2 separate regions of the Homo sapiens genome follow, and region 1 is linked to region 2. The links come from fine-mapping of genetic effects on gene expression. A gene starts in region 2. The other region holds a variant in brackets. All regions are shown on one strand. Distances are between the middles of the regions.

Region 1 (8,407 bases), 20 kb after region 2:
TCTCGAACTTCTGGATGCAACCAATCCGCCCGCCCTCAGCCTTTCAAAGTGCTGGGATTACCACCGGGAGCCACTGTGCCTGCCTGGCAAGGAAGTTTTATATCAACTTCTAAAATACATCTCTCTTCTCTTTTTCTCATTCTTTCTTTAGGTGGCTCTGGTAGGCGAGGAGGAAGGTTTTCTGCTCAAGGAATGGGGTAAGTTTCATTGATCTAGTGTCTTAATTTTTTTTCCCTTAAAAATTACTGTAGGCAGCCTTAACCAAAATGATCAGAATGATTTCTAGACTGGTCAGAAAGATATGGGGACTTAGGGCTCATTTCTTAGGGATAAACCTTTACCACCTGGATCATTACCTATATTTTATATATCTTTATTTGAATCAATATACCTGTTCTTTTCTCAGAATATCTTAGATATATGTTGAGATTATACCATGAAATTTTGGGTAGAGTGATAAGTGAGAAAAAGTAGATGACACACAGGATTATAGAATGGGGCCATGACAGATTTGTACTAGGAAGGATGCAGTCAAGATTTTGATTCTTTGAGTTAATATTTGCCAAAGCTGCTTAGAGGTCAGAGACTCTTAAGTTTTATTTTTTCCAGAACCTTTAACCCAGCTGATTATGCAGAGCCAGCCAATACTGATGATAACTATGGCAATAGCAGCGGCAATACGTGGAACAACACTGGCCACTTTGAACCAGATGATGGGACGAGTGAGTGACCATTTATCATTCATTTCTTGTCTCTGGGAATCTAAGGAAATAGTTTTTTCTGATTATACTTACATTAAAACGTGGAAGAATAGTGTTTGGTTATGGAGATAGGGTGAGAAAGGGCTGGCAGTTGTATTACTGTGTGTACTGTTTATGTAACGTGCATATGGGCACATTACACATGTTATTTCGCTTAATGCTGCTTGATATTGTATGAAATAATCATTATTTATCATCACTTTCCAGATGACAAAACTAAGGCCGAAAGAGAGGTTATAAATTTGCTAGTATTTGAACTCAGCATTGTTTGACCCTGAAAGTCCATGCCCTTTCAACTATGCTATGTCACTGCTATTAGGTCCAAGTGTATTTTCTAGTGTTTATGTTAGGGTAGTGTTGCCTTTTGAAAAGATAGCCAGAATTAATCAAGCCACTGCTTGTAAAGATGAACAAGGCCTAGAATCAAAGTCCACACTATCCATTTATTTGTTTTCTGTTACTGAGATAAGAATATCCTTTTTTTCCCTTTATTTTTGGGACATGTCAGTATCTGAACAAGAAGATTTCGAAATCTCTCTAGCCTTTCTGGTGCCCTGTTGAACAGCCTTCTTGGTGTGATGGAGTATTCAGGGTTTGAATAAGATTACTTTTTTGTTAACTGACTTTGGTGCCTGCGTCTGGGCTGGATATAAATGTTTAAGGATATGTTAAGCTGTGGTATACACCTAAGATGTGTTTGGGGGTGGATACGTGTGCCACTTTCAATAAGAGCAGTTCATTTTAGTAAGAAAACTCTGGAGTGCTTTCTTGAACAGCTGCCTCATTCTGGCTGAGCTAACACATGAGAGCCTAAGGCTTTTTTTCCTCTTACAAAGGGGGATGAGTAGGGCCTGAAATGTTTGACTCCTTACCTGTTTAAATTTGCCTTGTCACCTTTCACAGATACGTGATCTCTGGGCCTTTAGGAGAGCCTTTGGCACAAATAGTTTTCCACCTTTTTCCTACAATATATTATTCCTGAGGCTCTGAATGTCGTCTGCTTTTTGTTCGCCAAGTTGCTATCTTATAAATTCATTTTTAACACATTTCATGGGTGGAGGCTGAAGTTGAGTTACAAGATAGGTATCTTTGAATTTCTGCATCATTTAGTTACGAAATGTCCTGTTATAGTTTAACTTACTATACTTCGGAGGCATTAGAACTGTTCTTCATTCATCTCTTGATGGCTTTGTAGAGGCAGTGGTAGCAGTCTCAATAACAAATAAGTTACTGTTTTTGAGCTGTAGCTTATTCCTGGGTATTTGGCTTTTTATCTTTGGCAGGTAAGATGGCAGAAGTTGAAAAGTTTGTTTTTAGTTGTGAATAGAAATTCAGGCATGGGGTCCCAGTCCTTAGCCTTCGCTGTCTTCAGTAAGGATCTGGTTGGAAAAACAGCGAAAGGTAGTGTGTGTGTTAATTTCTACTGAGTAGAAAAGGGAGCAGATGTGCAAGGCTGGAATTGGAAATCTGATTTGTAGCTGAATGTGACGCCACTATCGTCTTGTTAGTGCAAAAGTGTTGGTTATAGCTTCATGAATTCCCATTGTCATTAATTTTTTTTTTCTTTTCTTTTTTTCTTTTTTGAGACAGAGTCTTGCTCTGTCACTCAGGCTGGAGTGCAGTGGTGCGATCTTGGCTCACTACAGCCTCTGCCTCCTGAGTTCAAGCTATTCTCATGTCTCAGCCTCCTGAGTAGCTGGGACTACAGGTGCACGCCACCACGCCTGGCTAATTTTTGTATTTTTAGTAGAGATGGGGTTTCACTATGTTGGCCAGGCTGGTCTCAAACTCCTGACCTCAAGTGATCCACCTGCCTTGGCCTCCCAAAGTGCTGGGATTACAGGTGTGAGCCACCACGCCTGGTCGTTGTTAATTTCATGATATGAACATACCTTCATGCATGGTTTCTTTTTGTGTTTTCCTGATAGCAAACTTGAGTTTCCCCTTTAAATTAAAAAAAAAATCCAAACCTACCTTTAAAATATCCACAGGTACAATGGGGATTATGTATTGGGGCAGACTTTCTCATTTACAAGCAAAATTTCACTGGTTGTTTTTTCTTTTCTTTTCTTTTTTTTTTGTTTCAGGACTTGATTTCATTGGGGTTGAGGGGTCAAATTATCCCCCAAAATTATCCCCCAGACTGCTCCTGGTATGATACATCCAGGTGCCTAACTGCCCCAGATATTTTTGTAGATTTTTATGAGCTGAAATATCTGTGGATATGTCATTTTTATGTCTTTCTGCTTTTTCTCTTTCTGCCTTTTTCTCTCATTTTTCTGTGTCCACTTACCTTTCTGTTCATTTAATGAATATTTGACAGTTACACTGATTGCTTTCTGCTAATGGAATGGAAACCCTAGTCTGTTGTTTAGAGCATTTCCATCTATTCTGTTCCTTAATGCTTCCTCAGCTCTCTCTCTTCCTCAGCCATGACCGTATATCCTGAATAGGAACATACCAGTTAGGTGTCTACGTTCCTCCTTTCCATCCCAGTTGAAGTCATCAGTGTGCAGAAAAAAATTCTTGCATCAAGAGCCTAGATTAAATAACCTGTTAGATCATGTCTAACTCTAGGATTGTGTATAAGTGCTAATGCAACTTGGATTCCATCGAGCCAGGATAAGATGGATGTCAATGAGAAGAAAGTGTGGTATCAATGAAGGAGAAAAGAATGTGGTTTGTAACTTGTCTGTACTGAGATTGGACTTTGGTTTTGAGAATATTGTCATTATTAAGTGGTTTAGGATTTCCCTGGTGCAATTTTAATATTTTCCTGGGAAAGTCTTTACAATGAATATATTTTCCTCTAAGAAAGAAGATTTTTGCATTATTAAATGTTTAGAAGAATTTTAGATGGGCTTTGTATTAGAATACTTCTAATGTGGTGTTAGAATACTTCTCTTCAGTGGCACAGCATCTGAATGTCAGACTTTTCATTTCATTCTTATAAGCTTTTTTCCAGTAGGAGGGAAGGATTGAAGAGTTATTTAATATATATTATTCTAGCAAGAAAATAAGGGTGCTCTTGTCCCTTCTTCAGACAGGTTCTTGTTTTTACTGTGCCTTTGGCTGAAGGGAAGAATCCTGGTTCTTGTTAGAAATTCTCACCCTTATTTTTTAAGAAAGGACATTTTTTTTTTTCTGAAAATATATGTATACATGAAGCACAAAAAAGGAATGTGGAAGGTGGTTTGATTGCTTTTGGATTTCTCCAGTAGAAACTGTATCCCAGCTTCCGTATTACCAACAAACACAAGGACAGTGTATACTCCCGTTGTCTGTGCCATGACCATAGCAGGTCAGGTTTCAAGTTCTATATGAGTAAGGTTAGGACAGTAACTATCATTCATACCTGATTTTTCAGTCTTGTTCATTGTCTTTTGAAGAGGACAGCTCTATAGGGGCTTTTCTTATACAGTTAAACCAATAAGATCTATAAACTTGACTTCTGCTGAGTATGCATTTTTAATCTAATTCTCATAGCAGATAGTTTTCAATGCCCTCAGTTCGGGTTTCAAACCCACCCTTCTTCACTGCTCTTTCACTAACCATTATGTGGTAACCATTTGTGTTTCTCTATCAGTGCTACTATCCTTCTTCAGACTGCCTACAGTATTTTTTGTCTTATACTAGATAAATAGGTGTAGTTTGCATGTTATGGTTTAAATTGGCTGCTGCCATTTCACTGAATTGACCACTAAATCAACCTGAGGACCTTAAAGATACTGCTTTGAGCATTGGGTGGTTGTCTGTCTGTCCCCCCCCCCACCCCCATTCCTGCTTTGTAACAAAAACTGAAAGTAGCTATGAAATCATAATCTTATTAAAACCCTGGTACTCTGAGATATCCTTTTCTAAAGAGTGTTTCCTTACCTTTGAAGCCCAAGAATTTCTTTTTTTTTGTTTTGTTTTTTGTTTTTGTTTGTTTTGAGACAGTTTCACTCTTGTTGCCCAGGCTGGAGTGCAATGCCGCGATCTCAGCTCACTGCAACCTCCACCTCCCAGGTTCAAGCCATTCTTCTGCCTCAGCCTCCCGCGTAGCTGGGATTACAGGCATGTGCCACCACGCCCAGCTAATTTTGTATTTTTAGTAGAGACAGGGTTTCTCCATGTTGGTCAGGCTGGTCTCGAACTCCCGACCTCAAGTGATCCACCCACCTCGGCCTCTCAAAGTATTAGGATTATAGGTGTGAGCCACCACACCTGGCCTTCTGATTACTAAATTTTAGTCATACTTTTGGCTGCCAAAAAAATTAATACATTGATGTTTTCTATACATGCTTTGTACTGGCATTTAATAGTGAAGTTACTTCACTATTTTTCTTTATTCTCAGGTGCATGGAGGACTGCAACAGAGGAGTGGGGGACTGAAGATTGGAATGAAGATGTAGGTATTCCCAGGTCATTCCTCACTAATGCCTTCTATCCCTAAGTGT[T/A]GTTTAGGGATAGAAAATGGGTATGTTTCTACCCCTCAAAATTCACCCTTAAGATTCTGACCCAAAACTTTTACATCCAAAATAGTGTTCTGAGCCAGAACATTTCACATATGTTATATGAAGGAGACTGGGCATGAACAGGACTCTGTGGAACCACACTATGGAAAGGGCAAGTGCACTTGTGTAAGTCCAATATCTGATTGTCGGATTTATCCCAGGAAGAGATTGGTGGTTGGGTAGGGCACCAGAAGTGGAGTTAGGCAGGTAGTGCATTGAGTAACAGCTGCTGGTGGTACATGACTACTTGGTGCATTTAAGTATTTGCTATAAGGTCCTGTAATGGATTGGCAGTGGATCCAAAGCGAGTGTTGTGGTACCAAATCCTCAAACTTGTAATCTGGTTGACTCTGGAACCCTTGTATTTATTTGAAGCCCAACTGTATAATTGTGATTGAGATGAATATCTGTAGAATTGGCTATCTGCCAGCTTGACTTAACTTGGAAACCTCATAGATGGGTGGCACGTAAACAAGCTCTGTGAATTCATTTGAGTACTACCTGAGTAAGAATTTTGCTGATTCCTGGTCACAGTCAAGCTTCTGCTGTGAATTATGGTTTTCAGTGATCATGGATAAACTCTTGTTTTAACATTTTTAATCTATGTACTTTTCTATACTTTCATGTAGTTAGGCAAGACAGCTTTTGTGATAAGAGGAAATGACATGTGAAGACTGTTTTGGTTGCCAATTCTGGGTTTTTTAAATTTCAGAGGCATCAGCATCACAGGGTGATTATTTTCTATTGTATAATCAATGAACTAGACTGCTTTGTGAAAATGGGCAAATTATGTTCCTTTCTGAGATTTGGCTTGTCCGCTTAAGCAACTTTCAGAGAATGATAAATGGTGTTGGGCATTGAGGGGAGAGTGGATTTTCTGTGCTTTAGCGATTTTAATCAAGAAATAAAACTGAAACCCAAATCAACTTTTGAATAGTAGGAAAAGTTAATCCCTGCATTTGCTTACCTAAGTTTGATGCCTTAATAGTGGAAGGACTAGATGTCACAAAGTCAAATATTAAGGCAAAAATAACATCTAGTTAAAACGATCTCCCATAAAAACCTTAATTCAGCAGCACTTGGGCCCTTACTGCTCAAAAGCTAAAAATGAACTTCTTTTATTTATTTCTTCATCTTGGTTATGATCTTTCTTTGGGAGGGGTGGGGCTGTGAAGGGAGTAGTAGAAGACAAATGTGGTTTGGGAAGAGGTGGGAGTTGGGAACTGTAATGGGAAAATATAGAGGGATTTTCTTTCTTTTATTTTTTTTTTTTTATGTCTAGCATGCCTGTAAGTTCAGTATGCATATGATCATGTGACTCCACTATATTTTATTGGGTTCCTTGCTTCTACTCTTTCTTTGGCTAAAACTATTGAGCATATATTGAAGGGCTTGAAAGTCAATCCATTCAGGATTCCTCAGGGTAGATAGTTTTCTCTTTATAGGGCTTTCACTTTTTCTTGATGTTGAATTCCCCTTACCTATGCCAAGTTTCTGACTGTAGCATCCCTGACACCAAGAGTGACTAATCCCTCTGTTTTCCAGCTTTCTGAGACCAAGATCTTCACTGCCTCTAATGTGTCTTCAGTGCCTCTGCCTGCGGAGAATGTGACAATCACTGCTGGTCAGAGGCAAGTGTGCAGTAAAATTTAGTACCATTTCTTAAACACATCTGCTGAGATTACTGTAAAGAGAAGTGGCACTGGCCTTTGTAAACTCCCATGGTGTCAATAATAATAACCAAATTACATTACATCATTACATTCCTCTTAAGTTGATGGAGAGACTTCTTTTTTTTTTTGTTTTTGAGACAGAGTCTCACTGTATCGGCCAGGCTGGAGTGCAGTGGCACGATTTCGGCTCACTGCAACCTCTGCCTCCTGGGCTCAAGCAATTCTCCTGCCTCAGTCTCCCGAGTAGCTGGGATTACAGGCGTGTGCCACCACGCCTGGCTAATTTTTGTATTTTTAGTAGAGACGGTGTTTCACCATGTTGGCCAGGCTGGTCTCGAACTCCTGACCTCGGGTAATCCGCCCACCTCTGCCTCCCGAAGTGCTGGGATTACAGGCATGAACCACCGCGCCAGTTGATGGAGAGACTTCTAAGAGTTAGTACTAGTTAATCTGCTGAATGGAAGTTGATATGTTACAATTTTAAAGTTGATTCTCCCTGCAAATAGCACTTTAATTACAAAGATCAGCCTTTCATATCACCAGCATTGAGTATATAACTTGTTTTGAAGTAAGTCAGGGAAAGAAGAGCCAAAAGTGGAAATGTTTTCATTTATTTCTGAATCTTTTAGAACTGTTCAGCAGTTTATTCTCCTGTTCTCTGAGCCCACTGAGTATAACAGTTGTTTTTTTCCTTTGGATCAGCAGGATCCAGCTAATAAACGTTTTAGAATTTAAATCTCTAGGGATCAGTGGTAGGAGATACACTCTTCAGGGAATATTTTTAATTCGCTGGAAACCTCTTGGATTTTTTCTAGACCTGAGCCTGATAGCTCAAAAATTCAGTTCTGACGTTAACTACCCAGAGTTAATGCAGACCCCACAAGTTGAAAGCTCAGTTCTACAAGAGTGCCCCAACTTCAGAGGTTCTGCCAGCCAGCTACAAATTTGGAGGTTCCCATGACCGCCTTTCAAGTTTGATAACTCACTAGAATGACTGAACTCAGGAGTTTTACTTGCCGTTACTGTTTTTTTGTTTTTGTTTTTGAGACGAGACGGAGTCTTGTTCTGTCACCCAGGCTGGAGTGCAGTGGCGTGATCTTGGCTCACTGCAACCTTCTCCTGGGTTCAAGCCATTCTTCTGCCTCAGCCTCCCTAGTATCTGGGATTACAGGCATGCACCACTATACCCAGCTAATTTTTTATTTTTAGTAGAGGCAGCGTTTCACCATGTTGGCCAGCCTGACCTCAGGTGATCCACCCACCTCAGCCTCCCAAAGTGCTGGGATTACAGGTGTGAGCCACCACACCTGGCCCATTACTGGTTTATTATAAAGGTACAACTCAGCAACAGCTAAACGGAAGAAATGAGTAGGGCAAGGTATGAATGGGTATGTGGGTGGGGCACACACAACCTCCTTGTCCTCTGCAGGTATCCTGAAGCTCTCCAAATCTTATTGTTATGAGTTTTATTACCTAG
Region 2 (8,407 bases):
ACTCTGTCACCCAGGCTGGAGTGCAATGGCACAATCTCAGCTCACTATAACCTCCACCTCCTGAGCTCAGATGATCCTCCTGCCTTAGCCTCCTGAGTAGCTGGGGTTACAGGCACACACCACCATGCATGGCTAATTATTAAACATTTTTTTTTTTTGAGATGGAGTCTTGCTCTGTCACCCAGACTGGAGTACAGTGGCATGATCTTGGCTCATTGCAACCTCTGCCTGCTGGGTTCAAGCAATTCTCCTTGCCCTCCTGCCTCAGCCTCCCAAGTAGCTGGGACTACAGGCGCATGCCACCATGCCCAGCTAATTTTTTGTATTTTTCGTAGAGATGGGGTCTCACCATGCTCGCCAGGCTGGTCTCAAACTCCTGACCTTGTGATCTTCTCATGTGGGCCTCCCAAAGTGCTGGGATTACAGGCGTGAACCACCGCGCCTGGCCCATTTTTAAACTTTTTATAGAGACAGGGTTTCCCCATATTGCCTACGCTGGTCTCGAACTCCTGAGCTGACGTGATCAGCCTGCCTCGGCCTCCCAAAGTGCTAGGATTACAGGTGTAAACCACCTCGCCTGGCCTTAAATTTTTTTTTTTTTTGATACAGAGACTCACTCTGTCACCCAGGCTGGAGTGCAATGGTGTGATCTCTGCTCACTGCAACCTCCGCCGGGGCTCAAGTGATTCTCCTGCCTCAGCCTCCTGAGTAGCTGGGATTACAGGCACACACCGCCACGCCCAGCTAATTTTTTTGCATTTTTAGTACAGTCGGGGTTTCACCGTGTTGGCCAGGCTGGTCTTGAACTCCTGACCTCAGGTGATCCACCTGCCTCAGCCTCCCAAAGTGCTGGGATTACAGGCGTTAGCCACCGCACCCAGCAAAATTTTTCAAATATACTTTATTGAGGTTGAATTTACATACAATAAATGCATTCATTTTATGTATATAAATTGATGAGTTTGACAAATGAACATACCCCCTTCACCACCACGTCAATCAAAGTAAAGAATATTTTCATCACCTGGAAATCTCCCCTCTCCCAGCCCAGGCAACATGATGTACTCTTTTACAGTTCTGCCTGTTCTAGAATTTCATATAAATGGGGTGGAAGCACATGGTACATATTCTCTTGTGAACGGCATTTTGGCTTTCTTCACTCAGCATGGTTTTTTTGTTTTTGGTGAGACAGAGTCTCGCTCTGTCACCCAGGCTGGAGTGCAGTGGTTTGATCTCAGCTTACTACAACCTCTGCCACCTGGGTTCAAGGGATTCTCCTACCTCAGCGTCCCGAGTAGTTAGGATTTTTTTCTTGTATTTTTAGTAGAGATTGGGTTTCACCATGTTGGCTGGTCTGGTCTCGAACTCCTGACCTCAAGTGTTATCTGCCCAACTCGGCCTCCCTAAGTGCTGGGATTACCGGCATGAGCTACCATGCCCGGCCCACTCAGCATGTTTTTGAGATTCATGTTTGCAATTTTTTTCATTCAGAAGTATTTTGAGGACTTGTCTTCATATATTTATCTTCAGTTTTTCATTTTTTACACTATTCCAGAATATGAATATACCACTACCTATTTTTTAGAAACAAGGTCTTGCTCTTGCCCATGCTGGAGTGCATCAGTGCAATCATAGCTCACTGCAGTCTGTAACTCCTGGGCTCACATGATCTTCTGGCCTCAGCCTCCCAAAGTGCTAGGACTACAGGTATGAGCCACTGCACTCAGCCTATATAATAATTGAAAAGTGGACATTTGAATTAAGTTTCTTCTTCAAATATTATGAACAATGCCCCTATAAATAATCTTGCACATGTTTCTTGGTACACATGAGCAAAACTTAATTTCTCTATGGTAGGAGAGAAACTGTTGGACCATGGATTAGGTACATGTGCAATCTTACCAGACAATGACCAGTTATTTTCCAAAGTGGTTTTACTAATTTATACTTTCACTAGCAATGGTTGAGAATTTAGAAAAAATTTTTAAGCAAAAGGAATATTGCTCTGAACTAGACCAAGGGACCCCTGAATAGCCAAAGTATTGATTGGTTCATGATGTGCTAGAAACTAACCCTATGTCTTTCTCATGAGGCAGGCAGGACTGTTAAGGTTTCAAGCCAGGACATCCTCCTAGAGCCTTTTCATGTACTATGTCAGCAAAGAACAAAGAGGGGAAGGTTAATAGCACTTGTTAATGAAAGTACAGTGCTCTAGGAGTTGAGGGAGTCATGAGCTCTAGCTCTACAACTAACCTGTTTTTCATTCAGCAACAAATTACAGAGTACCTGCTATGTGTAGGCCCTGGCACTAACCTGTTTTTCATTCAACAAGAAATTACTGAGTACCTACTATGTGTAGGTCCTGGCTTTATAGTCGTGAACAAAACTGGCATGGTGCCTGCATTCTTGAAGCTTACGGTCTAGCGGAAGAGAGAGGCATGTTTTAAACAAATGGACAAACATAAAAATTATGGTAAATGCTATGAAGGAAAAATCAGGGTACCATGTGAAAATAAAGAGAGGGGGAACCTACTTTAAAATAGGTAATAAGCATTCCTTTTTTGGAAGTAACATTTAAGCTAAGATCAAAAGAATGAATGAGCTAGCCAATTGAAGACCATTCCAGATCACAGGAGCAAAAAGGGTGGAAAATTCAGCCAGTGGAGCTGGGTCCCAGTGATCTGGGGAGAGCCACACAAAAGGGGGTTGGTAAGGGAAGCAGGTGTCTTTTACTTAGAAGCGAAAGACTAAAGAAGCAGAATGAGAGTGGCAGTGGGATAGCAATAATTCTGATTCACAAATGTTGGGTTTGAGATGTCTACTACAAATCTAAGTGGAAATGTCAGGTAATCAGTTGGCAATATATGTAAGGAACTCAGGAAAGAGTTCTAGGATAGAGATAAAATTTCATCTGTAGCTAAAGCCAAGGAAAGGAAGACAGTCACCTAAGGAGAAAGTACAGACAAAGATAAAAGACCACTGGGTTATTCACTTCCTATACGTCTTCTGGTAAACTGCCTCCTTTTCTTGGGCTTCTTGGTAACATGAATGGTGGAATTAGATGATTTATGGAGCTCCTCTTAAGTCTAAAATTATGTAAAGGTAACCCTTCTCATTGCTCTTGGGTTAACCTTAATGATCTCAACCCCATCCTAATCAAACAAAAAACACTGGGTAGTTTAAGATGAGCTGGGAAATATTTTACTACAAACAGTTGGGAACTTCGACCCAAGCCCTTCATTCTGCAGATACAAAAACAGAAGTTCCAGGATGAGCCACATGCTTGCCACAGCACTGAGCAGGTAAGCCAAGTTCCAAAGCGCACAGTGCCTGCTCAACTTAGTAAGTACAAGGACAAGTGCACGCAAAGAAACATGAGAATTAAAGTCATCACTAAAGGCAGAGGAAATCTCATTCTTGACCCTAAAAGATCTGGAGAAGTATGTTTAACTTGTGCCCTAAGGACCTACCTTGGGGGCATTGTGTCCCACAGGGACATGAGGTCCCCTTCGAGATTTCATTGCAAAGCGCATGATTTGCCTCTTCACAAAAATAAATAGCAGTACAAACACCTGTCCAAAAAGATGTAAAAATCCTTTAATAAAAAGTCAGTTTTGTTTTGTTTTTTTTTTAAAAAAGCATGCCTTCATTCCAAATCCCCAGATTCCGGCTCTCAGGAATGTTTCAGGGTAAAACTTGGGGCAAAGCAAGGCCGTTATGATGGGGGTGGATCTAAGAAGCCAGCAGCAGGGAGGCGTGGGGTCTGTGCTCTAGCGTTAAAGGGAGGGTTCTAGACTAACGAGGGCGGGTCGGCCCGACTAAGTGACTTAAACTCCCACCTACTCCTGGAATAAGGAGTCAAAGCCCGGATAGGCGCAGGTGAGTGGGTGGAGAATGCAGACGGGGTACAGCTCAAAAGGAGGGTCTCTACTGGGTAAGATGCGACAGCAGGAATGGGGTGGGGTAATCTCCTCACCAGGCTCCCGTAGGCCATCACCAGCACGACATTCACCCCGGAGAGCCAGTTACTGCCGGACGCCATGGCCTCCCTACCTCGCGCAGAATTGTTCGGGTTTACCCCGCTGTCCTGGCTGGTCAGCCCAGGCTCCGCCGAAGCGACGGCGCCTGGGTCCCCTGGAGCTCCCCGGCCATTTCCTTACGGGGGAAGACCAAGCCAGACCCGGCCTGAAAACATGGCGGACAGGCAGGAGAGCTGGGAAAGGAGAACGACGCCTTCCAGCTTCCCCCTGACACGTGACTCAGGCAGGCAATGGCACCCAGGAGCGTCGAGCGCTCAGACGCGGAACTACGACAGTAAGAGGAAGCGGCGGCCATCCGTGCGTCACGTGGTGGAGGCAGGGCCGCCGTGAAGGAGGCGGGGTGGACTCGCGGAGCCGGAAAGAGGTGTCTCGTGGCGAGGCGGCACGCGCACGCTTGCGTGCGCGCCCCTTTTAGCGTCACGCGCTGAGGGACGCAGGAAGGCAAGTGGGCGGGGGAAGGCGCGAGAGCGAGCGCGAGAGGGAAAAGGAGGGAGGGGGTGGGGAAGAGGGAATCTTATATCACGTGACAGGGGCGGCGCGGCCCGGGGTGTCAGTGTGGAGGAGACTGAGGTAAAGTTGGGAGCGCAGCGGCGTTGGCGGCGGCGGCGGCGGCAGCGGCAGCGCGGCGGGGCCGGGTATTGTCCGCGGCCCCTTTAAATCCGCGATCCCCCTTTTACCCTCCCTCTTTTCTCCCCTGCCCCCGCCGTATCCCCTCCCTCGGTAGGCCCCCCCACACCGTGTGTTCCCCCACTGTACACCCCCCCCCGAGTCATGCGAGCCCTGGCGCCCCCCACCTCGAGTCGGCCCCCGGAGGTTTTGTTTATGGTTGGGTTCGCGGCCTAGTGGGCCGCGCCAGAGCCGGGGCCTCGATTTGGGAGCGTGGCCGGGGCGGGGCTTGGAGCAGCCGTAGGAAGGGGGGGCCATGCGGCTAGAGCCTGAGAGGGGAGAGCGAGAAAGAGCGCGAGCGAGCGAGGCCTGGGCCTTGCCTGAGGTAGGGCTCTCTCTTCACCCCGGCCGGTGCCTGCGGAGGAGAGGGCCTCCTCCCTTTCCACCCACTGCGGGCCTCCTCTGATCCGGATCCGGCCTGGTTTGGGGGTGGCGTGGGGGAGGGAGGGCGATGGGGTGGAGCTCCCCCAAACTCCCCCATGTGGCCCTCAGTTTGGTGTGCGAAGGATTAATTTGTTCCGGCTGGGAGGTAGGGAGGAGATTGGCCCCGTGGGCTCTCGATGTGGCGCTGAGGGGGGTGAGCCTCCCATCCTCCACCCGTGGGCTTGCGTCCCCTCTCCGTTTCCAGGCTCTTTGTCAGCTCCTCTTATTACCCTCCCTTCTTTCTCACCAACCCAGTTCTTGGAATATGTTTTTGCTGCTGTCTTTAGCTTCCTGTTTATACTGTAGTTTGGGTACCCCAAACAATTGTGTTATTTGGGAAGCTGGACATGGAGGCCCCCATAGGGTGTATTTACGCTTAAGGGACGTCACTAGAGCACTGGGGTATTTGTTCACTCTTCTCATAATGGTACAGGAATGCCCAGTTTCTTCAAACCCTTAACCTTGTGGACAGCCCTTAAATTGCTTTGCAAACTGATGTCACAAACTGGAGACTGCTCCTTTTCCACCATTCTTGAAATGTAGCCACCTCTGGTGTAGGATGTTGTGGAAAGAAAAACACCACAGTAACAGGCGTTTTTGTTATTATTGTTAACGTTTTTGCCTTTGACTCTCCCTGATTATTAAATGGAGAAATCCTTTTTTTTTGTCTTCTCTCCCATCCTACCTTCCTCCGCCGCATATCCTGTTTTGGGGATACCTGATGTGACTTGCTGGGAGGTGATGGACATTACTAGTAACCAGCGTTTCTAGAGAATTAAAACATTTTGGCTGTGTATCAGTTGATAAAACTGCTTTGAGATCTGTCTCCATTGTACTTAAAGATTAGACTATCCCAATGATTACAGAGAATTAAAACATTTTGGCTGTGTATCAGTTGATAAAACTGCTTTGAGATCTGACACCATTGTCCTTAAAGATTAGACTATCTCAATGATTGTTTCCTTTGTGAATGGGAAATATTGCTGGCACATAAACTAGTGATGAAAGGCCTAAAAATGTCCTGTTTTGTTTTTCATCTTTAAAGCTCCTCCTTGCTATGTCCTAACTGGGAAGTACTCTTACTAACTAGATATCAAGGTGGTGGGGAAGGGGATGCAGGGGCCATTTCAACAAAGCATCTACAGAAATTAGTTGTTCTGTTAGAGGTAGCAAATTTTACCCAACTCAGTCTAGCTTCAGTTTCTGAATTGTTTCTTAAATTAGATTGTAAGCTCCCTGAGGGCAGCTACTAAGTCATACTGCTTTTGTATTTTCCTGAAGTATTGGACACATAGTAGATTCTCAATAAATATTTGTTATTTAGTTTTTTCAGTGAAATTTCTCTGGCTATTTTTTTAAGTAGCTAGTTTTCAAAAAAGAGTCAAGGGCACTCCTGTGTTGAAACCTCTGTTTACTCTCGCACGATTTCCTTGGTCTCCAATACTTCTCACCCTACTTCCTTTAAATCTTTTTATTTTCTAAGAAAGAGCAAGTAAGTAACAAGATTCTTCATCTCCAGTGTGATAGCTGGGAATGGGTCTGCTTGCTACTAATTCTGTGCCCTCAAGTGATCCATTCCAGATCACTTACTTTTGACCTGTTGCTCAGTGTTGTCACTACTAGGTGGTAAAAATTTTCTTAGTCACATTTCGAAGCACTTGTAAGAGGGAAATGTTACTAGCAAGAGTGATTAGGAGAATTTTTTTCTTTCTTGGTTAATTATATCTTTCAAGATGACTTTTTAATATGTTTACATCTGACTGGTACAGTATATGCAATAGTGTATAGCTAGTCATGCAGTTTATACCTGCAATATAACTTATCCTCACAAATAGATATCACATGTGGAGTAGAAAACAGTCAATATTTGTAAGTTACAGTAGTGGGTTGGAAATGACTATGCCATATTAGAAACTTCATCTTAGAGCCAATTTTAAAACAAAATAGTTTTCCTCTCGTCTTTATATATATACGTATATATGTGTATATGTAGTCTTGTTGATTTGGATTCGGGGTACTTGGTTAAACATTTTTTTTTTTTGTAAAGTTGAAACGACTATAATGCTAACCTGGGAAAATGGGCTACTGTGTAGCAAATAATCCTTTCTAGCTTGAAATACTTATGGGCTTTTGTGTGCCAATATGTGTAGGGGGAAGAGGTAATGGGTTAAAAATTACCTGAGAAGCTACCTTAAAAAAATCTTTCTTGATACAAAGACCTATGCAACCTATTGACGCAACTTGGTGAAGAATTTATGCACAGAAAAAGTCAGCTTTCTCTGTGACATCCAAGAAAGTCAGATGAAATTCACTTCCCTAATAGTTAATCCTTGCATATTTCTTTAGAAGTCCTTCCTCCCACTCAAATCCAGTAATATCTCTGGGCAGTCTAGAATTACGTTGTATAAGGTTTCATTAACAAGAAAAATTAAATATAGAGCAGAAAAGTATAAACTTACCCTCTTTGGAAGGGAATAAATGCAGAGTAACCTATTATTTTGAACACTCTATCATATGATTAATGTTTTCTTTTTTACTAAATGCAGCAGCTGAGATTGTATTATAAAACAAAGTATGAACTAAAGGAACTTGAATTCAGTAGAATCCTTCCTTGTTAGAAGTCTTGTAACAAAAACTATATTCTGGTTTGGGGAAGGCCCTGTGTGTTCTGTGTCTCTTTAAAGACTCAACTAAGTCATCTTGCCAGCATTAAGGTCTCAAGTTTAAAATGATTTCTTAGAAGCACTTTCTTCCAAATAAAACTTTGTGCTAGATGCTTTTGGTTTGAGACAAATTTGAGATTCCCTGTATATTAAGGTGAGTGGTGGAGGGTAATTGCCATTTTGGTTTCTTGAAAATGTGGACTAGGAGACCAAGAGAAGCACCTGTAAAAGCAGTGTGTTGGAATTATTTTCCAGAGAACAGAGATTCTGGACAAAGTCATTGGGGCTAATACGTACCCTGTTGAAGGCTGTGGTTTAAAAAAACAAAAAACCCCCACAAACACAAAACAAACCCATAGCATACTGAGAGAGATGAAACTTGAGGGACAAAGAAGAGTCTAGACTTGAACTTGTCCTTTCCCAAGCAATGGAGGTCACATGCAGCTTACATAAAAAAGGTTGTAAGGCAGGTAAGGCTGTTTTCTTAGGTGATTGAATACAGTATTTAAAATTATTTCTCTGGAGTGTAGACTAATCTCCTTCCTGGAAGGTTTTTGTTTCCAGACTTTACTGATTATCTTTCCTTCTGTCAAAGGTACTTCAGATACTTGCATC

What was found. PIP is the estimated chance that this variant, and not a neighbour inherited with it, causes the effect.
Region 1: its variant is the best candidate, but not a certain one, in a credible set for the expression of UBAP2L in whole blood (TOPMed, PIP 0.59).

What each region holds. Positions count from the first base shown.
Region 1 is chr1:154,236,415-154,244,821 of GRCh38, forward strand. It overlaps UBAP2L (ubiquitin associated protein 2 like), which reads left to right. Exons shown (of 27, transcript NM_014847.4): 7 at 152-197; 8 at 610-722; 9 at 5,099-5,151; 10 at 6,803-6,888. Among named protein-coding and RNA genes, the nearest start is that of SNORA58B, 19 kb to the right of the region's middle. The variant T/A (reference allele first, on the strand shown) is at 5,201.
Region 2 is chr1:154,216,366-154,224,772 of GRCh38, forward strand. UBAP2L (ubiquitin associated protein 2 like) reads left to right here and starts at 4,590. Exons shown (of 27, transcript NM_014847.4): 1 at 4,590-4,610. It overlaps LTAP1 (lipid transport auxiliary protein 1), which reads right to left and starts at 4,225. Exons shown (of 7, transcript NM_001098616.3): 1 at 3,977-4,225; 2 at 3,471-3,572. The coding sequence starts at 4,042. RefSeq lists enhancers at 3,598-4,345, 3,924-4,363, 4,346-5,093 and silencers at 3,684-3,753, 4,614-4,763.